Linked DNA regions of Homo sapiens: region 2 is linked to region 1. Evidence: fine-mapped expression QTL. A gene starts in region 1. The other region holds a variant in brackets. All regions are shown on one strand. Distances are from middle to middle. Region 1 holds the start of PARD3 (par-3 family cell polarity regulator). Region 2 overlaps PARD3 (par-3 family cell polarity regulator).

Region 1 (14,404 bases):
ACTCTTATTGCCCAGGCTGGAGTGCAATGGTGCCATCTCAGCTCACTGCAACCTCCGCCTCCTGGGTTCAACTAATTCTCCTGCCTCAGCCTCACCAGTAGCTGGGATTACAGGTGTCTGCCACAACACCCAGCTAATTTTTTATATTTTTAGTAGAGACGAGGTTTCACCATGTTGGCCAGGCTAGTCTTGAACTCCCGACCTCAGGTGATCCACCTGCCTTGGCCTCCCAAAGTGCTGGGATTATAGGCGTGAGCCACTGTGCCCGGCCCTATTTTATTTTTTGAGATAGTGTGTCACTCTGTCGTCCAGATTGGAGTGAAGGGACATGATCATGGCTCACTGCAGCCTCAAACTCCTGGGTTCAAGTGATCCTTCAGCCTCATAGCTGGAACCACAGGTGTTTGCCACTACACCCAGCTAATTTTTAACTTTCGTATAGATAGAGTCTCACTATGTTACCCAGGCTGGTCTCAAACTCCTGGGCTCAAGTGATCCTCCTACCTCAGCCTCCCAAAGTCTGCAATTACAGGCATGAGCCACCATGCTCAGCTAGAACTGGCATTTATAAAGCATCACCACGAAGCACCTCTTCATATCACTGGACTTTCCAAATCCTGCCTCCAGTCAAGGTGGCCCGCCAGAAAGTGAGTGGCTGAGGTGGCTTTATTCCACTCTGCTGCACATTTGTCTTTAACAGAGTTGAGTGTTAATATCACCTGCTCTGCCAGCCTCCACCTTGTTCTGCCAACTTTCATGGACTTCACCAACAAGCTACCTCATTCTTCAGCTCTGGGACCTGGGAAGGAGGGAGATATTTGACTGGGGACTTGGGCTCTGAGTGGTGGGTCATGGCAAACATGGGTGCTTACTTTCTGCAGGGATGGGCCTTTTCTGGCATTCTGAGGCTGGGTGACACCGGGGCTTCTAGAAGTGGTGATCTCAGCCTGGACTCAAGTTTTTGCAAAGTGGGCTCTCTCAGCAGGGCAGTGCTGACATACCTTCCAGCAGTGTCTGGGAACCAGAACAGGAGAACGAAAATGCAGAGAAGGGCCAGGCATGGTGGCTCACACCTGTAATCCCAGCACTTTGGGAGGCTGAGGTGGGTGGATCATTTGAGGTCAGGAGTTTGAGACCAGCTTGGCCAACATGGTGAGACCCTGTCTCTACTATAAAGTATAAAAATTAGCCGGGCGTGGTGGTGCACGCCTGTAATCCCAGCTACTTGGGAGGCTGAGGTGGGAGAATCCCTTGAACCCGGAAGGCAGAGGTTGCAGTGAGCCAAGATCGTGCTACTGCACTCCAGCCTAGGCAACAGCAAGACTGCATCTCAAAAAAAAAAAAAAAAAAAAAAAAGGCAGTGGATACTTTGGTGATGGTTGCTGATGGACTGGTTGAGGGCAACCCTGGAATATTTTGAAGGGGGCTCTATTTGGGCAGGTGAGGACTTGGATATGTATTCCCAATGTGTCATGAAATTTTATGAATTACAAAAAAATTTTCATGAATTTTGACTCAAGACACCAAAGGCTCTGGCATCTAGAATTATGCAGTACTAGTTTTTCATCCATTATTAATATAAACGGAATCACTGCATCTAGATAAACTAGGTAGATTTAAATACAGCTGTAAGGCTTTATCTGGTTGGTGGAATCAGTGTTATTAATCCTCTGGATCATATTTTTTAAAAACATCCATATCCTTATTAGGTATTGAATAGTTAAAGGAATTGATGTACATAAAATGGTATCCACATATCCTGATGTCATCTCTGTTATGAAAGCTTCCCCCTTCTCTAGTACCGCCATAAACACTTTGCTGGCACTGAATATTTAATGTGTTGAATTATAGTTATTGGAATAGCTATCTTATTCTGACCTCTAGATTGTCCTTCTTTTACTCACCTTTATAATTCTGTAATATTTAGCCAGTGCTTCCTGCAAGGAAGGTCTTTACTAACTGCATGTGGAATCAAATTTAAGTGAATTGAGTGCAGGCCTGAGAGTCAGAGCTGGAGTTTTTGGTTGTAGTCCTAGCCCAGTCACTGGAAAGTTGTATCACCTGGCTAGTCATTTCTTTGAGCCTTGGTCTTCTCCTGTCCTCCTCATCTCTCCTGCCTCCTCCACTGTCATCATTTGCTATCCTGTGCTGGACTTTGTTACCCTCTGCCTTCATTACGGTAACTGGACTGTACTACGCTATACATTCCCATGTGGCAGCGTGGCAGCATGTACTGTTTTTTTTTTTTTCTTTTGAGACAGAGTTTCATTCTTGTTGCCCTCGGCTCACCGCAACCTCGGCCTCCTGGGTTCAAGCGATTCTCCTGCTTCAGCCTCCCGAGTAGCTGGGATTACAGGCATGTGCCACCATGCCCGGCTAATTTTGTATTTTTAGTAGAGACGGGGTTTCTCCATGTTGGTCAGGCTGGTCTCGAACTCCCGAGCTCAGGTATCTGCCCACTTCGGCCTCCCAAAATGCTGGGATTACAGGCGTGAGCCACCATACCCAGCCGTACTGTTTTCTGATACATTATTTTATTTAACATTCATAACTTATGACCAGGTGCCGTGGCTCACACCTGTAATCCCAGCACTATGGGAGGCTGAAGCGGGAGAATCGCTTGAGGACAGGAGTTCAAGACCAGCCTGGGCCACATAGTGAGACCTTATCTCTACAAACAATTTAAAAATTAGCTGGGCATAGTGGTATTTGTCTGTAGTCTTAGCTGCTCTAGAGGCTGAGGAAGGATTGCTTGAGCCTGGGAGTCTGAGGCAGCAGTGAGCTAAGATTGTGCCATTGCCCTTTAGCCTGAACAACAGAGCAAGACTCTATCTCAAAAAAAAAGAAAGACTGACTCATAACCTATGAGATCTATGAGATGGATATGGATATGATAAGCTCTACTTCTCTACTTTTCAGCTGATAAAACGGGCTGGAGAAAGAGTGACTGTTGTGTCTAAGGCACTAGTAAGTGGCCAAATATGGATCTGAACCTAGATCAGTGTGATGTCCTATGTACTCTGGTTATTACTGAAAAATGACTTTCGATTAGAATTATTTTGAGAAAGCCCCACTCTAATTTATTATACTCAAGCTAGTATACCCCTCTGAACTAGTGTAGCATCAAAACTAGTATACATTCTCTGCCGCGCGGTGGCTCACGCTGCAATCCCAGCACTTTGGGAGGCTGAGGCGGGCGGATTGACCAGCCTGGCCAGCATGGTGAGACCCTGTCTCTAACTGAAAATACAATAATTAGCTGGGCGTGGTGGCGGGCACCTATAATCCCAGCTACTCGGGAGGCGGAGGCAGGAGAATCATTTGAATCCAGAAGGCGGAGGTTGCACTGAGCCGAAATCACGCCACTGCGCTCCAGCCTGCGCAACAGAGCGAGACTTGGTCTCAAAATAAATAAATAAATAAATAAATAAAAATAAATACATAAATAAATGTAAAAAACACAAAATAAAATAAAGTAGTATACATTCTAAACTAGTAGTATACTCTCCCAATGCATGAAAACAGAAACAACACCTATAATTATCAGTAATTGTTGTTGTGGATCCAAGTATCTATGTAAGAAGCAAAAAACCCACATCAACAGTTGTTGTCATCGTTGTCACAAACTTAATTACTGGCTAGAAATGTCTAGTGCTGCAGCCAAACAGCAGTAGGAGGAGCCTTTCCCATGGCTGAGTGGAAGGAGGGAAACCTAGACTATTTCTGGGTCTGCCTTGAGCTTTCTCTGCCGCCTTGGGCAAGTGACTTTGGCCCTGGGTCAATGTCCTGGAGTAAGATGGGGCTAACACCACTGCACTGATTTGCTGGGACAGGTGGTGGAAAGTGGTGGTCCAGGGCTGGGAGAGGAGAGGAAGGGCAATGTTTCCTAGGAGAAACTGCACTATGCTGGGGCAGCTGCGGTGCTGCAAAGCGCAGGGAGTGTGGCAAGCGGACGAACCTCGTGTCTTGTTTCCTTGTTTTAAGATTGGAGGTGGAGTGGGATGGATGGTCGATCGCCAGCTCTTCCAGCTCTTAAGTGCTCAAGTTCTGCGCCAACCCAGGGGAGCTTGATTGCTTTCACGTGTCTTGGAAACAACTGGCAAAAAAGAATTTCACATAGTCTGGAAAGGGCTTGGGACAGGGACCACTCTTTGCAGACATTTGTCATTCTTTAAACATAATGACATACATTTATTAAGGACTCATAGTCCATAACTAAGACAAAATGAGCTTCAGTTACGTTCCCTAACTCGGTCCACGTTCCTTTAGAACGTCTCAAGCCCGCATGTCACTCATCGCGGAGTCGCAGCCTTCCCCTGGGTTCGGGCGTCTGCGTTAAGCGCCGGCACATCGTGGGGATCCCCGCGTGAGATTTCTCTGCGCCGTCGGAATAGACTGTTCACGGATTCGCGTTAGGATTCCTTATGCTGCAGAACTTCAAAGAAATAAATGTATCAGAATTGCGATGTTTAAGTTCTAATCTATTTAAGCGGGTGGGTCAGCAGAGGGTCAACAGGAAACTTCAAGGTAAATAGTGGCCTCTGGAAAAGGCCCGGTCGCTCACGGCTTCCCCACTGTCTCCCCAGAGCAGACTATTAATTCTTGCGTTTCAGGCAGAACTGCCGCTGCCGGCCCTGCAGCAGAGCTAGGGAGCGGGCAGGGCAGAAACCCAGCCGAGCAAGCTGCAGGCTCGAGTCCCCGCGGGCGGAGAGGCTCGGGCTGGAGCCTCCGGGGCGGTGAGGAGGGGACTCACCGCACTGAGCACAAACTGCTTTCCCCGGGAGCGCCTGCACCCAAAACCCTCCAGTTCGAGGAATGGGATTAAAAGTGACAAAGAAAGGGGAAGGGGGGCTCCGTGGAGACTTCTGGAGGCGTGGAAGGGGCGTCCCCGAGGAGGGGCGACGCAGCCCTGCAGGGTGCTGGGCGGGCGGGGTGAAGGGGGCTGGGGGGCGCCTGGGCCAGGGCTGGTGGGGGCAGACGGCCGCCTGCCCGTGCTGGCACTGGGGCGAGGGGTCCCGCGCCCCCGGAGGGAGGGAGGGAGGGAGGGAAGGAGGGAAGGAGGTCGGCCCCCGAGGGCGGTGGCGGGGGCGCGAGCTGCGGTCCTGCGCTCCGCCCCGCGCGGGTAGCCGGCCGCGCCTCCCCCTGCCGCATGTGCGCGGTGTTGTGTGCCCTGCCCTGCTCCTCCCCCTCCCCTCCCCTCCCCTCCCCTCCCCTCCCGCCGTCCCCTCCCCCAGCGGCCCCGAGCGAGCGCCAGCGCCACACAGCCCCGGGCAGCCGCCGGCGAGCGCGCCGCGACGCCGAACAGGTGGCCGGAGGCTGCGGGCGCCGCGGCGGGGAGAGGCGAGGCAAGCCCCGGGCGAAGCGAGGCGAGGCGAGGGCGGCCGGGCCGGGCATGCGAGCTGAGCGGCCCCCCGGCGTCGCCGCCGCCTGCCCGCGCCCCTAGCCGCCCGCGCGCCCGAGTCCCCAGCGGCTCCTCCGCGCCCAGCGTCCTCGGTCCCGGCCTCGGCTGCTCCGGCTGCGCTCGGCGAGGGGCGCGGGCCCGCCCGCGGCGGCGGCGGCATGAAAGTGACCGTGTGCTTCGGACGGACCCGGGTGGTCGTGCCGTGCGGGGACGGCCACATGAAAGTTTTCAGCCTCATCCAGCAGGCGGTGACCCGCTACCGGAAGGCCATCGCCAAGGTGAGGGGCCGGGGGCGCGGGCGGGGAGGGGGCGGCGGCGGGGACGGCGCCGGGATCAATATGGCGCTTCCTGGAAGGGGGAGGAGAGGCGCAGGGAGGCGGGGAAAGGGAAAGTGCGGCCGGTCGGGCCTCGCGGGCGCCCCCCGCCCCGGACTGCGGGCGCCAAAGTTCTCTGCGCGGGCCGGGGCGCAGCCTCTGGGACACCCAGCCGGGTCCCGCGGCCCCCGCCCTCACCCTCCGCCCGGGAGCTCCGGCCTCGGTAGCGCGGGGCGAGCCGGGCAGCGGCGCATAGGCCGGCCCTGGGCGCCTCCCCGGAGTCTGCAGACCCAGCCAAGCCCCGAGCCAGCGCGCGGGGGGCGCAGGCCGGGAAATCCAGCCCCAGGCCTTTCCCGGCTCCCAGGCCCCGGGGGCACAGGCCGGGGACTGGGAACTTTTGGTGTGAGGAGAGTTTCGTGACTGCCCTTCCGACAGAGGCGGGTTGCGAGCCTTCTGCCTCCTCTCCCTTACTCGGGCGGGGGCGGAACAGCGGCGGGGGGCTTTTCCTCCATGTCCCCTGCTGGTAGGGGCCGGCAGGGGCGGCCCGTCGCGTCCGGGGGCTGCAGGGTTTGGGGAGTCGCCGGCTTGGGGTCGGGGAGGCGTTCCCGGGAGGGCCACCGCTGGCACTTGGCACTCGCTTGCGAGCATTTACTGAGCTGATCCCACTTGCTGGGCTCTGGAAAGCACAACCTTGGAAGAGTCGCGGAATGAAAAGTTTTCCTGCGAGGACCTCAGCTCCTACCTATCCCGGGCTGGTTCCATGTGGCTGGGCTGCGGGGCCGGGCCTGACTTGGGAGTTGAGTGGATTTCCCTTTTTCCTGGTGGACTGATAACATTGTCTCCACTTCACAGCATTCCTCTACTGTGTGTCAGAAGTGAAAAGGCGTTTTGTTAAATTGTTTTACCGACTGTGTCTGTGTTTGACAACAGCCCACGCTGAAGTTTCTCCCAAGCACCCGGGGATATATTTCCTTTGTAGTAGAGTCCTCTTTGGTGGGGAGCGCATTCGTTTGGGTGCAGTATTTCCCATTTGTTCCCGACAGTGGCCTGGCCCCTGTGGGCTTGGGGGCTGCAAATGACGTTGGAAAGTGGCTTGGTCAGCCCTATTGAGCGTACACAGGGTACTCCGGTGGCATCTTCAGTTCTCTCAGAAATTAAGAAGTAAAAGCTTTTTAGACTTTTGTTTTGCTTTTAGTATATATTGGAAAAAATAGCATAAATTTGGCCTTTTAAAGATAATTTTGGGGGACGTTTGGAGACCCGACACAAGGATGGAAGACGTTGGCTTTAGTAGCTCTGTTATGTTCCTTACAGTTGAACTCTTTTATTGAAAATCAAATAAAATTAGTGGGAATTGGGCACCTGTTTATCTTGCAAAGCTGACAAAGGGAAAGAAAACCATCTAAATGGACATTTAGCATTTTTAAGTGTTGTTTATGTGTGACAGTTTATGCTTTAAATGTTCCAAAAGAGTACTCAAATTGTTCAGGCACTCTGGAAACCAACAAAACAAATTGTGCAAGGAAAGAGAAATAAAGTAATATGCACTCTGCAGTACGTCTAGGCTCCTGAATAGGAAGAGGGTGGTCAACATTTTCTTTCACTTTACTAATTTTATGTGATTAAAATTGTTTTACCTACTGTGTCCCATGTTTCATCCTGCACAAAATAGACATAGGCTGAACTGCCTGTTTGGCAGTAGTTCAAATGTAGTTGTTCCAGGCATTCGTTCCACAGAAATTCTGAAGCTTTGACTGTGTCCATGGCACTGTTCTGGGTGCTGGACATCTAAGGGACCCACTGGCTGTGAGAAGCTGAGCAAGAGGCTGCGGGGTCCTCCAGGTGAAGGAGCTGGTGATGACATGGGGAGAAGAGGTGGCCTCTGGGATGCTGGGTGGCTAGAGTGCAGGGCCTTGGTCACGGACCTGGTCCTTATTAACGATTAGCAGTGGTTGTTTCACAGGGCGTAGAAAAGGGAGTGCAGTTTTTTAAGGGTGTCTGGGAAGGTGTCACAAAGAGAAAAGGGGCCTATGAGCTGAAGGAAGGGAGGGTGATAGTGACATGGGAGTTGGAGATGAGAGGGAGGGTCAGAGATGGGTCAGGGGTTCCAACACTTACATGCTCTTTAAGTACAACTTAGAGTTCTGTAGGTGAATTTTAACGGGGGCTTTGCAGTATACCAAGTTCAGTCATTGGATCCCAAGATTGTTGACCCTTAAATGTTGCCAGAGCTGGAGTGTCTTCTAGGTCTCCTTTTTCTCGTTTTTCTTCTGAAATTGCTAGACAATGATTAAGATTAATTTTTAGTCTTTCTTACTACTTTTCCCATTCTATATTAAGTGATGAGGAAGTGTTAATATGTATTTAACACTGTTTTAACTTTTATTCTCTATCTGTTCCTTATCCGTATTGCCTAATAGAACAAGAGAAATTCTGTGTGAAGAATTGGGTGGCTGGATAGTTGTGGAGTGGTGTTTAGGTTGCTAGGTGACATGTGGCTTGATGAGCTCCCATCTGGTGGGGAAAAGTGTGGGCAGATCATGTTTATGGCTTTGGATAATAACCAACCAAGCCAAAAATAAAAAATAAAAAGGAAAAGAGAAAGGTCCCAACTCTCAAATCACCAAGGCTTTCTCTGCAGTAAACATTTTCTGGTGTGGTGGGGCTAATTTTCTGGCATTGCATGTGAGCTGTTTTCTCTTCAGATTACACAAATCAATTTTTCTGGATAGTGAAGTGTCATGATTTAATACTAGACATGTCCTCAGTGAGTAGATATTTGAAGGCTTATGCTTAGTCATGTGTGACATTTCTTTTTTCCTCTCCTGAAAGATGGTTTTGTGGTTGTGATCACTGATGGTTGGGAATAGCTGTTCATCCTCATCCACCCATCTGCATTAGGAGCCTCGCTGAGGACAGTGCGGTGCTAGACATTGGGAACCGCGTTACATGGACCGTTCTCATGAGGGCGCAGGATGGGAGGATGGACCGTGTCTGCATCTGTTCTTCTGCGCTTGCGACCTGACACGCGTGATTCCAGGTGGACATGGTGCTGAGCTGCAGCGCTGTGTGGGGTTGGTTGAAGGGCTGCTGTGTATAAAAAGTCATGCTCTATGAAAAAAATATAAGACTGAATTCGTGCAATTTTCAAAAAAAAGTATAATCTAGGAGACAGGAAGAATATATAACAGTATAAATAACAGGAGGTGGTAGCATTAATTGGCACCACTGTGATACAGTCAGTAATCGCTTCTGGATTTTGGAGGTGGGTGCTATCATTATGGGGTGTGTGTGGGAGTCTCATTTAGTCACTAGGATTTGAACTGGGCTTGGTTGGTGGGAAGGCTGACCTTGATATAGGGCAGTGCTTGCTAACTGGGTGAGGCACCTGCCTGCAGGGGCAGATGGGCTCTGGGTCTGAGGTCTGCAGTTGGGGTCTAGGTGTGTGAATCTGCAGAATGTCTGCTACGATTCTGATAAGTGAAAGGGAGGGCATTCCAGGAAGGCAGTATGGACAAAGGCGATTCAGGCATTCAGCCCAGGGGGTCAGGATCAAACTGAGGAGGACAGAATGCCAGGGCAAGACCCTGAGACTTCGTGCAGTAGGAAGGACTGTGGTGTTTAGCTAAGAGTCAGGGTAACAAGTAGTTCTAGGAGGATGACCTGAGCAACCTTAGATGAGGTTTGGATGGATAATTCCTTAGCATTTCATTCTAAATAAAGGTTGCTGAGTGACCAAAAGGGGAAGGAGAGAGTGAAGGGCAAAAGTGAGGGCAAGGAGGTGCTGGAGCCCCTTTGCTCACTGTTCCCACCTCCCTCATAGCTCTCCTCTCAGCCTGTAGGGGAGCTTTGGATTGGGTTTGGTGACTTAGGTTTACAAGCCATTTAACCTTGGGTATAGGGGAGCTTTGTATTGGGTTTGGTGACTTAGGTTTACAGGCCATTTAACCTTGGGTACACCAACCCTACGGAGCCCCATTATCTCAAGTGGAATATTCCCTGGCAGGGTTAATGTAAGTATTAAACAGGATGATGAGAGGGAAACTCTAAAGTCCTGGGCCCGGCCCATACTAGCTGCTCCGTAAAGATGAATGGAATCACCAATATGTTTTATCCACCAAGCAGTTTTACACCCAGGGAACTTTCCCAGGTGTCCCACTATTGCTGCTTGGATTTTTCCTGTTTACTTAAAAACGCAGCATGTAATTTCATTGAAGGATAGGTAAGAATGTGAGATTGAATGACGTGCAGCACCACAATCAGGAGAACAAAATTGTGTGTTGCATGTGTGTATGGGCTGGGGAAGTAAAAGCTGCGGGTATTGGCTTGATTACAGGTTGATTATTGGGGCCTCTGGCTTCTGTCCCCAAGCACATCACTTTAGAGTGATTTAATAGCAACCTGTTGTTATTACAGGTTGAGCATCCTTTATCCAAAATACTTGGGACCACACAAGTATTTTGGATTTTTCTGGACTTTGGGATATTTTTGTATATATAATGAGATAGGTTGAAGATGGAACCCAAGTCTAATGTATTGTTAGAATTTATGTTTCCTACGTACCTTATACACATAGCCTGAAGGTAATTTTATGCAGTATTTTTGTGCTTGAAAATAAGTCTGTGGTAAGTACTTACATGTGGAATTTTCCAGGTGTGGCGTCATGTGGGTGCTCAGTAAGTTTCAGATTTTGGAGTATTTTGGATTTTGGATTTTTCAATTAGGGATGCTTGACCTGTATTTTTTAAAAAGTTGAGCTCATGGACAGAAACTTTTGAAAATGTGCTTTTTTGGTGGCGGGAGACTGTTGATTAGTAACAATGACAGTCATGGTTTTTATGAAAAATCTTGTGGTTGGTATGGAATTTTTCTGTGAATAAATGTATGACTGCATGTTATTCATTTACAAGCGTATTGAAACTTTTAAGAAAATAGTTGTACTGTTGCAGAGATTGAAAGAAAATAGAGGCAAGCATAAAAATAGTGAAATGAAAGCAGCTTTATTTATTTATTTATTTTTTTAACATTTTCTGCCTTCCCTCTAAAAAGGAAAAAGAAACTAAACATTTTTGAAAGGCTGATCTTTCCAGAATTCAAGTCACATTGTCCTCTGGTGCTGAAGCGCCTTTGTCCCGCGTTCTCCAAGTCCTGCCTTCTGAGCACAGCCTGTCCCTGTAGGGACCCCTCTTGCCTTCCAGCCACTCCCTCTGCAGCTGCTCCACCCCCTGGGACTCACATACACTTTGCTGCCTCTGTTCTGGCATTTTCTGTTTCTTCTGCCTGGGACATTTGCTCCTTCCTTGCACTCATTCGTGAGTCTTAGCCCAGACAGCCATCTCCAGGAGGCTGGCTCTCCATCCCAAGCTGCTAGAGGATCTTTCTCCCTGCCTGCTGCCTCTCCTGGGGACGTCCTGGGTGTAGCTCCTGTACCGACTCAGATGCTTGGGCTGTGCTGTGTGGTTTTCAAGTGTATCCGTGCGCCCTTCCTCCCTCCGGGTGAAATGCTTGAAGCGGTGGCTGAGCTTCAGTCTTGGTGAATAGCCCGTGTCTGTCACATTGCAGTCAGAATGTTGAGTAAATAGAAAGCTGAGAATCAACATGTTACACTGCTCTCACACAAAAAATACACTTCTGCTGAGAGGACTATCATCAGCACTCGTGAATTTAAAGGACTTTAAGGTTTGGTGTGTTTGACCTACTGGCACAAACAGCTTGTAATGGAAACTAAGATTTAATGAGGTTTGGAGTACTTGGAAGTTACTCTTTCGTATCAGCTGTCTTGAGGGAGTTCAGTTTGTTTTTCAGCTCAAGCAGAGGACCCTCCTGGGATTCGCCTTGGGCGAGGTTCAAGGCAGGTGGCCAGGGCTGTGTGAGAATCTGGCCCTGGAACACACCTATGCTTGGTCTGGCGCCTCTGATTCCGTCAGTTGAGATGCTTGGCTGAGTGCCAGGACTAAGTAGGAATGTTTAGGATCTGAGATTCTCAGAGAGAATCTGGCGGATGTGAAGCGCTTCTTGGCTTGTGGTAGACATGGATAAATTGGTTGTGGAGGGAATATTTAAAGTCCCACTTGGATGCAAACCCACAGACGGATCCTCCGTCTGTCCTGGGAGGTTCTACCTCCCCACAGAGTTGGGTGCAAGTTGGTGATGTTGAGCTCCCCATAGATGATTAGAGCCCTCGGTATTTTTTATCAAGGATGGAAATAAACATGTAAGATTGGGCCAGAAGGTGCTTTCTATAGGTAATTTTCCATCGGGGGAGATGGCATGCTAAGCCCACACAGCATGCTTTCATCCTGCTTGGCCACTCGCTCAACATTCCTGGCTGGGACCAAGGTCAATGGCAGTAGAGCTGGACATCAGTAAATGTATACAGTTTTACCTGTTTTGGGTACCTTTTCTGTACAAAAGCAAATCTTTATCAAAATAAATGCCGAGTTCAGTGAATAAAGTAGAAAGATGACTGATTTTTTTTTGTCTTTTAGTCATTATTTACAAGTTTTTTCTTTCTTTCTTTTGTTTTTTTTGAGACAGGGTCTTTGTCACCCAGGCTGGAGTGAAGTGGCGTGATCTCTGCTCACTGCAGCCTCAACCTCCCAGGCTCAAGCGATCCTCCTGCCTCAGTCCCCCAAGTAGCTGGGACTACAGTTGTGTGCCGCCACACCTGGCTAATTTTTGTAGTTTTTGTAGAGACGGCATCTCGCCATGTTGGCTAGGCTGATCTCAAACACCTGAGCTCAAGCAATCCACCTGCCTTGGTCCTCCAGAGTGCTGGGATTACAGGCACGAGCCACCATGCCTGGCCTAAATTTTAGCAAATAAGTAAAAATAACTTTGTTTTAACTTATTTAGTAAATAAGTAAACATTTTAGTAAATAAAGTTAAAATAACTTTCGTGTATAGGTCTGTGCCTTCTTGCATCTGGCCTGCTATCTTTACGTGGTTTTTGCCATTTAAATATTACTTTTGTGTATTCCTTTTTTCTCCATCAACTCATATTGGTCCTTGCAAGTAAAATTTCAAGCTCCACATCCAAGTGACTTTAAATATCAATTATTTATTTTTTTCACCTAAACAGAGTATATTTTGTATATAGTCTCTGTACTCTATTCTGTATATATTTTATATATACTCTTTATATATATACACACACACACAAGCACACAAGAGAAATGAAAATGTGTACACAAAACCTGTACATCAGTGTTCATAGCAGCAAGCCCACATATTGTATAATTCTGTTCCTATAACATGACCAGAGTGGGTAGCTCTATAGAGACAGTAGAGTGGTGTTCCGCTAGGACTGGGAGTTTGGAGTCATGGAGACTGTGAATGGGTATGAGGTTTCCTTTTGGGATGATGAAAATATTCTAAGATCATGGTGATGGTTGCACAGTTCTATTCAAGTGTATACTTTCAATGGATGGAGTTTATGGTTATGTGATTATATGTCAATAAAGATGTTAGAAAAATAGACTGCATAAGCCACTATGAACAACGCTCCATTTTTAGGTATTTTGTAGTTCTGAGCATTTCATAAAATGACATATATATGTGTATCAGAGATGCTCAAAACACTTCAAATGAAAACTGGCTGTCTTTAGGAGTTTTCCATATAGTGTGGAATCCCTGCTTTCTCAGGCCTGTCCAATGTGTCCTGTTTAGTGTCTGGTAAGCTCCTGGCTGCTGAGCCTCCAGGTCCCCTGGTCTCTGTGTGCTACCCCCTACCCCCTCTAAGGGCTTCACCAATTGTTCTTTAGCCAGAGACTCCTTCTACCCAGCTCGCCAGCTACCTTTGTGCAGTGGAGGTTGAGAATGCCCCAAGGATGCACGTAATGGACCAGCCTTTCCAGCATTTGGCTTTGGCTCCCAGAAATTTTGAGCTTTGGCAAATCTTACAAGCTCTGTGAGCCTCTGTTTCCCCATGTTCTCATATTCAGAGGTGCTGGGCTGGACTCCCACTGCCAGTTCCCTGAGCTGTGCAGGGACTCCTGCTCTGCATGGTTTGTTTTGGTGCTCATGGGACCATAAGTGATGTGCAGTGGCTTTTCAGATGGTTATACAGGGTCCAGGACCTCTTACTGCTTCCCTCCATGCTGTGAGAATATTTTGCCTCACCCCGACCCCCCCAACTTTGAAATGACGGGGCTTGCTCTCCAGGTCAAATGGATGCTATTCAGAGTTAGGGTAAATTTTGCTTAGGGTTGGCTGGGTGAGAAGGCTCACGCCTGTAATCCCAGAGCTTTGGGAAGCTGAGGTGGGAGGATTGCTTGAGGCCAGGAGTTCAAGACCCAGCCTGGGCAACATAGTGAGACCCCGTCTCTTTTTAAAAAAATTAGCCAGGCATAGGCCGGGTGTGGTGGCTCACGCCTGTAATCCCAGTACTTTGGGAGGCCGAGGTGGGTGGATCACGAGGTCAGGAGTTCGAGCCTGGCCAAAGTAGTGAAACCCCATCTCTACTTAAAGTACAAAAAATAGCTGGGCATGGTGGTGCACACCTATAATCACAGCTACTTGGGAGGCTGAGGCAAGAGAATCACTTGAATCCTGGGAGGCAGAGGTTGCAGTGAGCCAAGATAGCGACACTGCACTCCAGCCTGGGCGATGGGGAGATTCATCTCAAAAAAAAAAAAAAAAAATTAGCCAGACATGGTTGTGTGCATCTTTAGTCCCAGCTGCTCAGGAG
Region 2 (16,273 bases), 69 kb after region 1:
TATTCTGTAAGAAAATATGACTAAATTATCATGTACTGAGAAAAGCATTAGGTTAACAAATTAGGAAAACTATGTCTTAGATGTACAACCAACTTTACTTCCCGTTCTCTGGTGGGCAGGCCTATACAAACCTACTCGCAAAGTCCGAGGAAGCTGAGAGGCTAAAGAAAGAGGCTCACAATTCCAGTTTCTCATAAAGAAACATTTAGGTTAAGGTGAGGTGGCCCAGGTTGGTAATCCCAGCACTTTGGGAGGCCAAGGCTGGAGGATCACTTGAGGCCAGGAGTTTGAGACCAGCTTGGGCAACATAGCAAGACCTCATCTCTATTAAAAAAAAAAAAAAAAGCTAGACAGGCATGGTGACATACACATGTGGTCCCAGCTACTTGAGGGGCTGAAGTGGGGGGATTGCTTGAGCCTGGGAAGTCGAGGCTGCAGTGAGGTATGATGGCCCCACAACACTCTAGCCTGGGTCATAGAGCAAGACCCCATCTCAAAAAAAGAGAGAAAGGTTTAATTGGGACTTAGGAACAGAAGCCACGTCTGTGTCTCTGCACTACCCCCAGACCCAGGGCTGATACACTGTGGGGAAAGGGTGACTCTGAAGGGATGTGTAGGACAATTAAAGTACTATAATGTCAAGGTTGTTTGACCTCTGGGCAGTGCCAGCTCCTGCAATAGATAAACGGGAAATCTTAGAGGCCTTCCCAGAACTGGGGTTAATCAGAAGTCAGCATGGCAGATTAATATCTGAGATGGAGTTGCTTTGGCCACTGCACCTCTCTGTCTTATAAGCATGGAGTATCAAGATAATTGTTATTTTGACCCAAATCATCAGCACAGCAACCAATTCCATTTATTAGGTAATTATGTACCAAATACGAGGCTATTTTTTTTTTTATTACATTTAATACTTGTAACAGCTCAGTTGAGGGTATTATCCCCATTTTGCAGCTGAATGGATGGACTTAATGGGAGATAAGCAGCTTCCCTGAGACACATCAACAGTGTGTGGAAGTGACGGGTGTGAACCTGGTTCTGTCTGTTGGCAAAACCTGAACTGATCTCTATGCCTCCCACTCCTAATATACAGTGTAAGAGAGTGTAAATAAAACATATTCTTAGGTCATCTGGGCGCGGTGGCTCACGCCTGTAATCACAGCACTTTGGGAGGGTGAGGCGGGAAGATCACTTGAGGTCAGGAGTTCCAGACCAGCCTGGCCAACATGGCAAAACCCCGTCTCTACTAAAAATACAAAAACTAGCTGAGTGTGGTGGTGTGTGCCTGTAATCCCAGCAACTCAGGAGGCCGAGGCAGGAGAATCACTTGAACCCGGGGGGCGGAGGTTGCAATGAGCCAAGATCGTGCCACTGCACTCCAGCCTGAGCAACAGAGTGAGACTCCATCTCAAAAAAAAAAAAAAATTGTTATGTCATTACCAAGAATAATCCAAATTAACATTAAAAATGCATTAACATTTATAAAACTTAATTAGTTCAGAGAAGAAATAAGGCTCCCTGCCCCTAACTCCTCACTCCTCTCCTGTAAATGTAAACATGTAAATTGTGCCTTCTGTGTTGCTTTCCTGTCCTCTATAGTCTTAGGGTGTGTGTGTGTGTGTGTGTGTGTGTGTGTGTGTGTGTGTGTGTGTGTTTGAAAGAGAGAAAGAGGATGTAACTGTAATGGTACTACAAATGTGTCTGTAGCTTTCTAGAAATGGAATTTCTTGATCATTTTATTTTAAAAATAATCACTCTTTTCTGCTTTTGCTTGAAATGTCCTATTTTCCATAGATTAATATATGTTTGACCTTTTCTGAATTAGATATACTGTTTTATTTGTTTTTTTCTCTTCTTCTGTTTTCAATCCCAAACTGGTTTTAATTCTAAAAAGGTACTTCCATATCGTTTTTTGTTTTCATAATTTTTGCGAATTTTCTGCTTTTATTTTCCAAGCTTATGACTTTGACTCATTTTGCCAAAGTGGACCCATCCCATGAAAACAACACAAATTCTGTTAATTTTTAAATTGAGACTGCGGGTTTTGTGTGTGTGTGTGTGTGTGTGTGTGTGTGTGTGTGTGTGTACTTTTTTTGAGAGGGGGTCTCGTTCTGTCGCCTAGGCTGGAGTGCAGTGGTGCCATCTTGGCTCATTGCAGCCTTCGCCTATTGGGCTCAAGGGATCCTCCCACCTCAGCCTCCTGAGTAGCTGGGACCACAGGCGCACACCACCACACCTAGCTAACTTTTTGTATTTTTAGTAGAGATGGGGTTTCACCATGTTGCGCAGGCTGGTCTCAAACTCCTGAACTCAAGTGATCTGCCCTCCTGCCTCTCAAAGTGCTGGGATTACAGGTGTGAGCCCCACTGTGCCTGGCCTTATATATTATTTTAGGAGGGAACTGACATCTTTCAAGTAGTTACTTCTGACTATCCAAGAAGTCCATATATCCGGCAATACATATTAAATGCTCTTTCACTTATCTTCTTTTTTGTCACTTTTTAAAGTTCTGTATACATCATATAAGTTCTATATGTTTGCTAAGTATTTCCTAGGGATTTAAACTTAACATTGCTATTTTCAGTTTTTTCTTATTATGTTTTTTAAACTGGTTATAATTTATATATAGTTTATTATTTTATTATATATTTTTTATAACCTTCATTTTTATAACCTTCAAAACTAATAATCCTCTTAGTTGTATATTAATTCAAGTTATTTTCTTGGGTTTTCCGAGTATGCAGTTTTATTGTGTGCAAATAATAACATTGCCCCCTTTCTGTATTTGTAGCAAACATTTACTTCTCTGTTTAATTGCACTGGCTAGCATTTCCAGAATAATGGGAAATAATCATGGTGTTAGGAAGCATCTAACTACATGCAAGACTTCATCATAATGATTTTTGGTGTCAGGACATCATGGTCTACCATAAGAACATGTGACTGCTATATTTACAATTTTGGAAACAGATAAAGGGAAAATAAAAGCAAAAGTATATGGGGTGAAGTAAGAGAATAGGACTAGAATTTGGAAAGTACATAATGGACAAATCTAGTGGGAGGAAATTGAAGTTGATGGGTTACGCTTCATGCCGTTAGTATTTAACAGCCAGTTGTGCATCAGGTCTGACAGGTGCTACAAAGATAAGGAAGATAACATCCACTGTGAAGGGCCTGTGGCCCAGGGGCACTCTGGGTGTTGATGAGTACAACTGAGGGGAACATCCTTAGTGATTAGTGCAGTGGTAGCCCGAATGTTATAATGTGTCCTGAGTTACAGCGTCATAGGATTTTATTAGAAGGCACCATCACCCACCTCTACTGCTGCAGTGCCTGCACTGCAGCAGGGAGCGGGTGCTCAAGTCTGTCTTCATGAATGAAGCCACTTCACTGTTCCTTGTGGTTCTTGGCCAGTGTTACGGAGGAGGTGAGCCAGGCTTTTGCTGGTAGAGAGAGTGGGAGCAGGGGGGGATGCTGCTACTTGAAGAGTTTGCTACAGGGGGTTTGATTCCAGACTTCAGGGCAAGTCTGTTCTGTCTGAGGTGTGGAGTGCTTACAGAGGAGCGAGGGGTGGGAGGGGAGGATGTGGAGGTGACTGAGAACAGAGCTTCCTTTCCTTTCTTTTTCTTTTTCTTTTTTTGAGACAGAGTCTTGCTCTGTTGCCCAGGCTGGAGTGCAGTGGCCTGATCTTGGCTCACTGCAACCTGCAACCTCCGCCTCCCGGGCTCAATCGATTCTTGTGCCTCAGCCTCCCGAGTAGCTGGGATTACAGGCGCACGCCACCACACCCAGCTAATTTTGGTATTTTTAGTAGAGACAGGGTTTTGCCGTGTTGGACAGGCTGGTTTTGAACTCCTGACCTCAAGTGATCTGCCTGCCTCACCCTCCCAAAGTGCTGGGATTACAGGCGTGAGCCACCACGCCTGGCCAAGAGCAGAGCTTTCTAAGTGATGCAGCATGGAGGGGTTCCGGTGGCTGAGATGTGGATTGCAGCCCTTGATGGCTGGCTGACCTAGACACCTCCTCCCGCATTTTCTGCTTTTTCCATGATGTTCCGGACAGCAAAGTGGCTTGTCATGGTGGTAACCCCCACGTCCATTCCTGTGCTCCCTCTCTGCTCCATGGCTGCCTGGGTTTAGGTCTCCTTGGTTAGGAAACTGTCGTGTGACCATGCCCAGCTACAAGGGGAGCCTGGACCAGTGAGTACAAGATTTTTACTTTTCCAGCCGCTGTAGGCAAAGAAAGGCAGGGAGAGAGAGCCTTAGGAGTGGATGCTGAGTCAGCCAGTTGCAGTGTCTGCCCCAGAACCATCCTATAAAAGCCATTTTCAAACTTTATTCATTGTATGTGAACATGTTTCAACATCTTTCACAAGTGGCTTTTAAATCGTTGTTAGTCATGGAAGCTTTGATTAGATGAACTCTTGTGAGGGAACCTGGCATGGTGGGCATACCACGACACCAGCTCTCAGAGACTCAGATGGAGGGAGCCAGGCTGGGTGTCGTGGAAGCCCCTTGAAGCTAAGTGAAGAGGGTATTGGCAAAGAGTAGTTGAAAATGAAAACTTTTCATTTTTAGTTGAGATAAGATGTCAGTAAAAGTTACCACTATGAGGATTTGGCTTTGCATTTAGCGATCCATTTTTGCTTTTCTTTTTTTAAAGTAGGAGAATAATATGTTTTGAACATTTAGAAATGGCCTCTTTATTGAAATACATAACCTTGTGTGGTTTGGGCTGGTGCTTAGATCCTCAAGAAGAATTTCCACATGGAAAACGAATTGCCACCTTAGTCTTCTCCAAAGATGCTGTCTCTCTCTAGAGTGGCTGTCTGCAGCCCCTGCCGCCCCAGCTCCCTTAGAATCGTGGCTCAAATGATATTCCTAATTCCTAAAGCTAAAGGGAAAAGAAAAAAAGCCAAAAAAGCAAACCAGTCAGAAAATGTACATTAGATTTTTACATTGATTTCCAATGTACAAATTTCTGTTCTTTATAATCTTAGCAGAAGCCAGTATCTCAGCAGAAGCAGAAGCAAATATCTTTAATTGAAGATACTTGGTTTCCATGATAAGCAGGGTTTCCACAAAACCACATATGAGAGCAGGAACCAATGCTGCTTTCTCTGCCTTCTAATCCCCGCAGGGAAGGGTCGAGGAGCAGAAATGTGGTGACCCTGAACCCCGGCAGCCTGGGTGTCCACTGCAGAAGTCAGGGTGTCTCGCCTGGGCATGGCTGAAAGATTGTTCTCCAGCTGTCTAGAGGGAGACACGGCTCCCTTTTAGTAAAAATGTCACAGAAACTTATTTATGTTTTATGTTATTTCCAATTGATTTATTAGTAGAAGCAAATAAATTCCTGTTTGTCAGAGGAGATTCCTGGAAACCTAGAAACTTAACACAGAAAGGAAATTGGGTATGTACATAGCTGCTTTTTTGAGCGTCTTTCATAATTTTTTATCATTTAAAAAGTAGTGAAATCAGTGAAGTTGACAATTTTCATTACAGATGCTTGTGATTATTTCTACTTGATATGAAGCTGGCTACAAGTTTGGGCTACTTATGGGCATATTTGCAAAAGTACATAGAATCTTAAATTTGAGACATTTGACTTTCATGGCTTTAATAAATGTGTTACTATTTTAAAATAGTATTAAGAAATTATTATTATATTTAGAGACGAGGTCTTACTCTGTTGCCCAGGTTGAGTGCAGCTGGGTGATCATACCTCACTATAACCTTGAACTCCTGGGCTTAGGCAATCCTCCCGCCTCAGCCTGCCGAGTAGTGGTGACTGTAGGTGTGTGCTGCCATGCCCAGCTAATTTTTTTTTTTTTTAATTTTGTAGAGACAGAATCTCACTTTGTTGGCCAGGCTGTTCCTGAACTCCTGGCCTCAAGTGATCCTCCTGCTGAGATTACAGGTATGAGTCACCGTGCCCAGCCAAGAAATTATTTTTGATAGTAGAGTTATTGTTTAGTGGCTTCTTTGTTTCTTAATTTTTTTTTCTTTTTTGTTTTTTGAGATGGAGTCTTGCTCTGTCGCCCAGGCTGGAGTGCAGCGGTGCGATCTAGGCTCACTGCAGGCTCCGCCTCCTGGATTCACGCCATTCTCCTGCCTCAGCCTCCCGAGTAGCTGGGACTACAGGCGCTCGCCACCATGCCCGGCTAATTTTTTGTATTTTTTTAGTAGAGGCGGGGTTTCACCGTGTTAGCCAGGATGGTCTCGATCTCCTGACCTCGTGATCTGCGTGCCTTGACCTCCCAAAGTGCTGGGATTACAGGCGTGAGCCACCGCGCCTGGCCGTTTCTTAATTATTTTCTAAGAATTACTGTGCCATTTCCTTTACATAGTATGGACTATAGTGGCGTGATCATGGCTCAGGGCTCACTGCAGCATTGAACTCCTGAAATCACTTGTAATCCCAAAGTGCTGGGATTACAGGCATGAGCCACTGTGCCCAGCTACAATTTTTTAAGCAATAGAAGGCCTGTCCACATTGCCGAGTCTTCCTTTGGTGATGGTTCATCTGAGGATTGCATGCCCAAAGCCCTGGAGTGGGAGGCTTAGATTCTTATCCTAGCCTTTCCTCCAACAGTCGACACCCCAGAGCGTGTGTATTCATTTCTTTCTTCCCTTTCTTCTCTCTCTCTCTTTCCCTCTCTCTTTCTCTCTCTTTCCCTCTCTCTTTCCCTCCCTCCCTTCCTCCCTCTCTTTCCTTCCTTTCCTTCCTTTTACTTCCTTTCTTTTCTATCTTTTGTAGATATAGGGTCTTTCTCTGTCATCCAAGCTGGAGTGTGGTGGCATGATCATAGTACACTGCATCCTCCAACTCTTGGGCTCTAGAGATTCTCCTACCTCAGCCTCCGAATATCTGGGACTACAGGCTCATGCTACCAAGCCTGGTTGATTTTTAACATTTTTTGTAGAAACGAGATCTTGCTTTGTTGCCCAAGCTGGTCGCAAACTCCTGGCCTCAAGTGATCCTCCTGCCTTGGCCTCCCAAAGCACTGACATTACAGGTGTGAGCCACTACAACCAGCCTTGTTTTTCTTATTTGTAAAACGATGAGGTTGGTTGCTAGGTTATTGCTGTTGATTTTTCTGGGGTCAGGCCAGAGACTGGGTTCCTGGGAGACCACAGGGTCCAAGGGGTGGTCGAGGATGCAGAGGGTCCTAGTTGCCCGAGCTCCTGGGTGTGCACCCACTTCCTTCAGTCCACTGCAGCTCTTTGGTCCCCTGTGATTGTGATGACCATCTGGAGAGAAGGTTTCTAATCT[C/T]CCCTCTTATCAGACAGGACACTCAGATGAGTCTGTTTTTATTTAAAATTTTGGCATTTTGCTTATCTTGGATTTTTGTGCATCAGTTTTTTTGTTCAATTATTACATTAAACTATTTCTCTTGACTACTGAGATTTTGGTCCTCCCTTAAATTTTGTGTCAGAGGCAAGTGCCTGTAGTCTCACCTCTGTTCCAGCCCTTGTAAACGCTATGATTCCTTGTAGTTTGTCATTAAAAATAGTTATCAAAGCCAAGTAATTTGGAAGTTAAATCAAGAGATTCCAGTGAAACGCTGGTAAGCGATGCCTGTTTATGCTCACTTAGTTGCTGGGCATTAGCAGGTGTAAAAATCTAACAAAAACAGCTGGAAGGCAGACCTCAAAGCTGCTGGCAGTCTCTCCCCTTGGGGACAAAAGAAGCCTTTCAGCTTTTTCATCTTGGAAGGTAAATCATAAACGACCAAATATTGGATTAACTTAGAAAAAGTTTTTTTATTTTTGAGATGGTAAATGTAATATCCTTGCTGTTGAATTCCTCTTCATGGTGACTATGTATTAAAACTGGGATTTTGCATGGAAAATATTTCAAGATTTGCATGGATAATGGCTAATGTACTGTCTGGCTTGTTGCATTTTAACTATAAAATTAAGTTGTTGCGCTATTTATTGTTATTTCTAAGGGACACCATGGAGAGCCATTTGGCCAGAGGGAGATGGGCGGTGAGGAGCGTGGTGACTGGTCTAGTTGGCACAGCTGAGATTTTTGCTGCTCTAGTAGTCATCTGGATTGGCTCAGGCCTGGCTGTTTGTTGCTTCTTTCACGGGCTCAGAGTGTCTGGAGATCTTTTTAACTAGCCGAGACATGCTGTTACTCTGAGCAATTCTCCAGGCAGCCATGAGTGCAAAGGGAGTCTGTGCCAGGTGCCCAGCACTGCTATATATGGCAGAGAAGGGTGGCAGGGGAGGACCCACCATGCCCTTATCTGGGGGCTGCAGCCAGGCGTGATTGTGGGGGCAGTCACACAGCTTCCGTGTGCTCTCAGACCAACCCTGTTTTTCCTCTCCCTCCTCCAACCTTGGCATTGATTTTAGACAGCCGATGTGCAGGTTCAATCTTCATGTGAAATGGAACAATGACTTCAAGTTCAGATACCCATCACTGGCAGTGCTGTATGTACAATCTATCAAGGCTAGTTAGGATGTCTTTGTGGCTCGAGAAAGCAGATTTTTAGATACGGGAGAGTTTGGTTACTTGTGTTTGTGATTCTGTGCTCTCTATTAATTGGCATGGGATTTTCGGACCTGAAATTTAGTGTAGATTTCAGTTTATTCTGAAAGATAAGTGTGAGGTTGAGATGTGGTCTTCTGTGTGACAGGTGCTGATTTATGTTGGAGTCCTATTAGGATAGATGCGTCCCACATTCAGTTGTATGTTTCTTAGGTCAATCAAAGAAACTGATCTGAAGGTGTACCACCACCTTCTCTCCCAAGATGACAAAGCTGTGTTGGGTCATTGGTTGGGAGCAGTGCAGATGAGAAGACAAATGCTGTTGACAAGTTGTGTGTCTAGTTCCTTAGGAAACCAGTCACCTGGTGTTGAAGACAGCAGCAGAGGAGTACCGTGGCCTAGCATGGAGCTCTGCCATGCCTTTGGTTCTTTCTGTGGACACATTTTCATGGAACCTAGAGATTTTCTGGTTTGGGGAAGGATACAATGGAAAAATAATTATGAGATGATGATGATAAGATTTAATTGAATATTTGCTAAGTCCAGTGCATACTATTAGGCCTTCAACATATGAATTTATAATCCAATGAATTAGATATTACGTTCCTTTCTTACAAAAGGACATTGAGGCTTGGCGATATTAATAAATGGCTGAGTGGTACTTGGCACCCAAGACCGTGTGACTCCGAAGCTCCTGCTTTCAGTGAAGGAGCCTGTGGTAGGAACATAGGGTCTGCAGTTTCAGATGTTGTGGCCTGCTGTGCCTTGTTGGTGATTGTAGATTCTTCACGATCAATATGGAGAAGGCTGCCTGCATTGTCTCCCTTCTTCTTTTGAAAAATTAGTTTTTACAGATAATTGCAAACAATGCAAAATTAAGGAATGCAATCTCTTTTTGACGTTTTACTCCCTAGTAGTGACTGGTATTAAAAAGCCTCCACGCAGTACAGGATGTGGGTAGATCAACCCTGGATTGGTTGGTTGGGATGTGATTCATTAGATCATCTATGAGATTCTCTGTTTTTTAGGTCAGAGTAATTGCCATTGATCTTATGATGCAGTTCTGCTTCCAGGACACTTAATGAACACGGAAACTGAAAAGTAAAGAACTTGGCCTGTAGGGTCTGTGAGACGGGACCACCCCTGGGAGCCGTGTTGTGTAGAGGCCATCCAGCCAAGGACTGCAAACGTGGAGATCTGTTGTGGCAGTGGATTGGATTAATCTCTATTAATCAGTCTATTAATCTGTTGATCTCTAGCTGAACAATCTCTTTTGTTGAATTGTTGCATTATGATATTTATCGTGACTACTGAGATTTTGGTCCCCCCCTTACATTGGTGTCAGAGGCAAGTGCCTCTGATCTCATCCCAGTTCCTGTCCTTGTAAACTCTGTGATTGTTTGTAGTTTGTCATTAAAAATAGTTATCAAAGGCAAGTAATTTGGAGGTTTAATTGAGTGGAGGAAACTTGGAAGAACCAAGTTTCAGTAGCATGTAGCTATCACGTGAATTTTCATCCTCCCAAGGTTGTGCTGGGGAGATTGAGACAAAAGAAGTACAAACACCTTGAAAACTAAATAGGCAGTTCCTGTGCCAGGCAATGGGATGGGATTGTCTCATTGCTTCTGAGTATTGTCGCTGAACCTGATTATTATGAATTTACCTTATTGTTATATTGTACATTTTAAGAAATTTTTAGGTATTTTATATTCTAATGCTTGCAAAATCTGGAATCATCCTGTGAGTTTACAAAAACCAGTAATGGTCTTTTTGAAGTACTTTATCAACTTTTGTTAATTTTTCTGTGTTGTATGTGCTTCATTAACTTCTGTTAGACTATAAGAGATTTCTCAGTAGTGCCTACTGAATCCATACACAATGAGGGACAATAGGATCCCAGGATCATCTGCTCCACAGAAGCAGGTATCACAGTGGCACCGACCAGCATGGGAAGAGTTTTTGTGCTGACAGCAGGGCATTCTCTTTGTTCTGTGGTCCATTTGTAGATGGCTGCGCTCCTCTGCACAGGGGCTGTCGCTTCTGCATGGATTGGTGTCTAAAAACCCCACCTAAATGAGAATTAGATATTCCCTTTCTTCTTTACCCAGAATTTTCTTTTTATAAATAAAAATAGGCTGGGCACAGTGGCTCATGCCTGTAATCCCAGCACTTTTGGAGGCTGAGGCAGGAGGATCGCTTAAGCTCAGGAGTTCAAGACCAGCCTGGGCAACATAGTGAGACTGTACCACTACAAAAAATAAAAAAACTTAGCCAGATGTGGTGGTGCATGCCCGTAGTCCAGCTACTAGGGAGGCTGAGGTGGGAGGATCACTTGAGCCCAGGAAGTTGAAGCTGCAGAAGGTTGTGATCGCACCACCACACTCCAGCCTGGGCAACAGAGTGAGACTCACTCTCTCTCAAACAAAAAAAAAAAAAAAAAAAATTTGGTTTACGAAAACACAGCAGTTGACTTTTCCATAGGCAATTTGTAGGTTTGGCATTTTACTGCCTTTAGAGATGTAGTATTGAGTATAGTCTGTTAGCCTGTTGGTCTGTTCACCCACAAATAGGCCAGTTCCAATTAGCTATAATATTTGTTTTAGGGGGAAAAAGTCTTATGTAAACAAATTATTTGCATTTATACTTTTGTTAAAAGTTGAACTCGAGTTAGTTATTTGAGACACCAACATTACCTGTCTACCATATTGTTCATATAGTGATAGTTCTGTGTAAGTAGACTTTAGTCAAGCTTCACATTAAAAAAAATTTAACCACTGTTTACCCTACTTGGTATAATTAGTAGGCTTTATCAATTTTTTTATGCTGTGAAGTCTAGATCTCAAAAGATATACGTCAATTTTTTGTTGTTCAGAATGAAGATTCTGTCTGAATCAGTAGGAAAAGAGGGGAGGGAACGTGATTTGTTGTTCACATGATATAGAAGAGGCTGGTGAGAGAGGCCTTTGGAAGCCTTAAAACAGCTTGGTGTGAAAGTTAGGGTGCCCTGGGAGCTGACAGGTAGGAGGAGTGGGAGGGGGAGATGGGGGCGGGAGTCAGAAGAACAGCTCAGCTCTGAACACACCTGTTACAGTCCTATCACTCACTGATGATAGAAAACCGCATTTTGTTGGAACGGGCACAGTGATTGTCAAGGAAGTTGTCTTGTGCTACTGCCATGGATTCAAAAGATTCTTGGGTCGTGAAAGAGGTGGCATCAGAAGGATATGTTTGTTGACAGGGAGACCAGATGCACTGATCCATTTTTTATCCTTTTGCCTTCAGAGCATCCTTGTCTCCTTGAATTCACTGCTGTCTCAGAACCCAGGAGGGCTGTCGGAGCCCTCTCCTGCAGCTCAGCTCCCAGGGGGCTCTCCCAGCAGGCTGGGGCTGTCTCCCAGCCGGCCAGCTCTGCTGGAACTGGAGGAGGCAGCCAGCTGCAATGGGACTGCCTCTTTTTCGTCTTGAAGTGGTTTCAGGTTTCCTCCCTTTCTCCTCTTGGGGTGGGGACGGGAGGCTCTCACCAGCTGTCGCCTTTGTGTTTTTCTCTCTCTCCAGCTCAAGTCAGCTGACACCTTTCCTTTCTTCCCTTCCCTTCTCCATGAACTTGCACGGAGTCGCTGGCGGGTCAGTGTGTAGGAGGGTGAACCGTAGCAGCTGTCCTTGCCTTCCAACTCTGGTTCTGCCCTCCTCCTGACTTATCCTTTCTCCCTTTCTTTGACAGAGATAGGGAATATTTTCCAGCAAGCTTCAGAAAACATTCTATGTGGTATGTGCAGAGAGATCCTCTATGCATAGAATCTTGCACAGGATTTAAGAGGTCAGTGCATGGGGCATTTTCTATCCCCTGCTCCCACTTTATTGAATATCATACTGAACTCAGTAGTTTAGGATGCATTCCTAAGTTTAGGGAAAGCTGTGAGGATCTTTTGATTCATTCTAGAACATTCCAAAGCACCACTGAGGTTGCACAAGGTGGTTCATAGCAATAGGACCGTGATGCTTATAGGGCAAGAGGAGGGGATATCACAGGACCTCTGGGACAGAGGGAAGCACTGAGGCCTTCTGCAACTCTGCAACAAAGTTCCTGTGATCCCCTGCCCTCGCCTCTCTCCCAGCACTCCTGGGATTTCAGCATTTTAATTAATATAAGTCAGGTGGACGCTTATCTTGCTGGATTCCTCAGTAGTACTTGATATGGTTGATCCCTTCCTCATTTCTTGAACAGCCCTCTGGTGCGGTCATTCTTTAACATAAACTTTTTATTTTAAAATAACTTTAGATTTATTAAAAACTGCAAAGATAGTAGAGAGAGTGTACCCCTCACCTCATCCTCTTTGCTAATGTCTTACATCACTGTGATGCATTTGTCAAAATGAACCAACGTTGACTTTAACTAAACTTCAGAATTTATTTGCTGTTCACCAGTTTTTCAGTTAGTGTCCTCTTTCTATGCCAGGATCCAGTCCAGAGGGCTACATTGCATTTAGTTGTCAACTTCATTTTATGTAATAAAAACTTTACCTACATTTCAGTGGTTGGTAATTTTGTTTAAGGAGGTGATCCCTTAAACAAAACGGAGAAAGTGAGTTACTTTCTGCTAGCTGAAGTGTTACTTTACATCCATTTGTAAATTTTTGTTCAGATATATCAATCATTACCATTTACTGAACACCCCCATTTGTGCTTGTTCTGGTTTTATGTTTTATGCTACAATGTGCTCTAAACATTTTAGAAATAAAATTAGCAGTACTTTGTGTGAAGTGGCAATAGGCTTCCTCCCCTTGACCCCTTCTGTCCCCTTATTTTGAGACAGGGTCTTACTCTGTCACCCATCCTCCCCCTGACCTCTTCTGCCCTGTTTTTTTAAGACAGGGTCTCACTCTGTCACCTAGGCTGGAGTGCAGTGCGGTGGCGTGAACACAGCTCACTCACTGCAGCCTGGACCTCCTGGGCTTAGGTGATCCTCTCAGTTCAGCCTCTCTGGTAGCTGGAACCGCCGATGAGTGCCACCATGCCTGGTTAATTTTTAAATTATGTGTAGAGATGGGGTCTCCGTATGTTGGCTTTTCTTCCATTTTAATGAGGTATTTTAATGAGGTAGTGATGTGCTGTGGAGCTTATTAAAAATGGGATTCTGAGGCCATGTGAGGTGGCTCACACCTATAACCCCAGCACTTTGGGGGGACCCCAAGACGAGAAGATCCCTTGAGGCCAGGAGTTCCAGACCAGCCTGGGCAATATAGTGAGACTCCATCTCTAAAATAAAATACAAACGAAAATGGGATTCTTCCTGTCTGAGTAGATGGATCTAGTACCAGCTTTCCCAGGACTAGTGGTGCTTATAAAATCCTGATCATTCCCTCCAGCTATCTTATTAGAAGTGTTTTCCTTAAAGTCATACATGCATGTATCATGTAGGATGGTTAGTCTAGCATATGTGTGTTTGTCTTTGGTGGTGGGGCAAGAGTGGGAGAAGAGGAGGTTGTATTTCTTCGTAGGTTAAAATTGGCTTTAAAGACAGAGAAAGAATAGAGTAGAAAATATTCGAGGGTATTGCCTGTAGTAAGACCCATATCCTGTATGAGGCAGTCCAGAGTCTCAGCTTTTTCAGCAAGACGCCCCCATCTGCTGTTGCCTTCTTCCTCCTGGGCCTTTGCCTAATGGGCCCTTTGCTGTGGGCATTCTCAATGGCAGTTCTGAGAACCACCTGCGGGCCCAGGCGTCCCTAGCGTGGTGTGCTGTGTTCTTGTGTTCCTACTTTCCTAGATGTTTCATGCTGGTTTGCTGTGTGTCTTAGTTCATTCGTGTTGCTATAAGAAAATACCTGAAGTTGGGTGATTTATAAAACAACAGATTTATTTCTCACGGCTCTGAAGGCTGGGAAGTCCAAACTAGGTGCCAGTGTCTGGTGTGGGCCTGGATTCTGCTGCTAGGTTGGTGCCTAGCAGCTGAGCACTCACGTGGTGGGGGAGCCGAGGGCCCTTTTCTAAGGCTAATCTCCTTCTAAAGGCACCTCCTCTCTACTGTTGCGTTGGGGATTAAGTTTCAGCATGAATTGTGGAGGGGACACAAATGTTCAAACCAGAGCACTGTGGTTTTGCCTCCCCCAAATAGAATGCTCATTGTGGGAGGGGATAGGATTTTCACCTCTGTGGTAAAATCGGCTCCATAGTGTTGGGCAGACGTCTTTCTTAGTCCTTGTTGGGGTGGAGGTAACCGCACCACTTCAGCTGTCCTTTAAGGCAAAATGTAGCCAAGCACCTGAGTGGAGCTTTTGGCTTCTGACTGTTGTTAGTGGAGAAGTGGGAAATCTTCCTTGCCTGAGCACATAGTTACAGAATAACCCTTGGCTCCTGTTGAAAAGTGAAAGGCACATTGTATGCATGAGATACCTTTGACCTCACCGACTATTTGCTCAACCACCTAAATAAACACCCCGTATTCTTGGGACCAGGTCAATACTGCAGACCCCTGCTTCTCTCCGTCCCCCTTTCTCCCCTTCACCCGCTTTCTCATTTCTGTTTCTGTAACTGTGTCTTGCTGTTCTCAGTTGGGATTGTGGAGCATCTCAACCGTAAAAGGGGAGGGAGACATGAGTTTGTTGCTTCTGACCTTTTGGGATGTCTAAAGTCACCTATTTTGGCCAGGCATGGTGGCTCATGCCTGTAATCCCAGCACTTTGGGAGGCAGAGGTGGGCAGATCACTTGAGGTCAGGAGTTCAAGACCAACCTGGCCAACATGGCGAAACCCTGTTTCTACTAAAAATACAAAAATTAGCTGGGCATGGTGGCGCATGCCTGTAATCCCAGCTACTTGGGAGGCTGAGGCTGAGGAGAATTGCTTGAACCTGGGAGGTGGAGGTTGCAGTGAGCCTAGATTGCACCACTTCACTCCAGCCAGGGCAATAGAGCAAGACTCTGTCTCAGTAAATAAATAAATAAATAAATAAATAAATAAATAAATTAATTAATTAATAAAGTAACCTATTTCCAACATTTTGAAATAACTCTTTCTTCAGTGTAGTTGTCACTTTCTTTATGAACACAGACAGTGGTGCGGATTCAAGTGATCTATTTTTGTTTCATTTCTTTTATAGCTTTGTCTGCTGATGAAAAAAAAATTTAGCTAGGTGTGGTGGCATGTGTCTGTGTTCCCAGCTATTCAGGAGGCTGTTGTGGGAGGATCACTGGAGCACAGGAGTTTGAGGCTGCAGTGAGCTGTGATCATGCCACTGCACTCCAGCCTGGGTGACAGAGCAAGACCCTATCACCAAAAAAAAAAAAAAAGGGCCAGGCGCAGTGGCTCACGCCTATAATCCCAGCACTTTGGGAGGCCGAGGCAGGCGGATCATGAGGTCAGGAGATTGAGACCATCCTGGCTAACACGGTGAAACCCTGTCTCTACTAAAAATACAAAAAATTAGCGGGTGTGGTGGTGGGCACCTGTAGTCCCAGCTACTCGGGAGGCTGAGGCATGAGAATGGCGTGAACCCGGGAGGTGGAGCTTGCAGCTAGCCGAGATCGCGCCACTGCACTCCAGCCTGGGCGGCAGAGCGAGACTCTTGTCTCAAAAGAAAGAAAAAAAAAAGTAACAAGTTTGGTGTGGTGGCTCATGCCTGTAATCTGAACAATTTGGGAGGGCAGAAGGATTGATGACTTGAGCCCAGGAGTTTGAGACCAGCCTGGGCAACAGAGTGAGACTCTATTTTTATTACTCCAAGAAAAGTGTCATTACACAAGTGGAGTGTATACCATATATATAAAAAATATTTCT

Evidence for each region.
Region 2: its variant is fine-mapped to the expression of PARD3 in whole blood (INTERVAL, PIP 0.98).

What each region holds. Positions count from the first base shown.
Region 1 is chr10:34,806,151-34,820,554 of GRCh38, reverse strand. PARD3 (par-3 family cell polarity regulator) reads left to right here and starts at 5,259. Exons shown (of 25, transcript NM_001184785.2): 1 at 5,259-5,679. The coding sequence starts at 5,560. PARD3-DT (PARD3 divergent transcript) reads right to left here and starts at 4,787. Exons shown (of 2, transcript NR_108043.1): 1 at 4,754-4,787; 2 at 4,133-4,435. RefSeq lists silencers at 4,911-4,960, 5,051-5,220, 5,741-6,020, 10,760-11,054.
Region 2 is chr10:34,735,844-34,752,116 of GRCh38, reverse strand. The region is part of intron 1 of PARD3 (par-3 family cell polarity regulator); the gene reads left to right. Among named protein-coding and RNA genes, the nearest start is that of PARD3, 71 kb to the left of the region's middle. RefSeq lists an enhancer at 14,329-14,829. The variant C/T (reference allele first, on the strand shown) is at 7,273.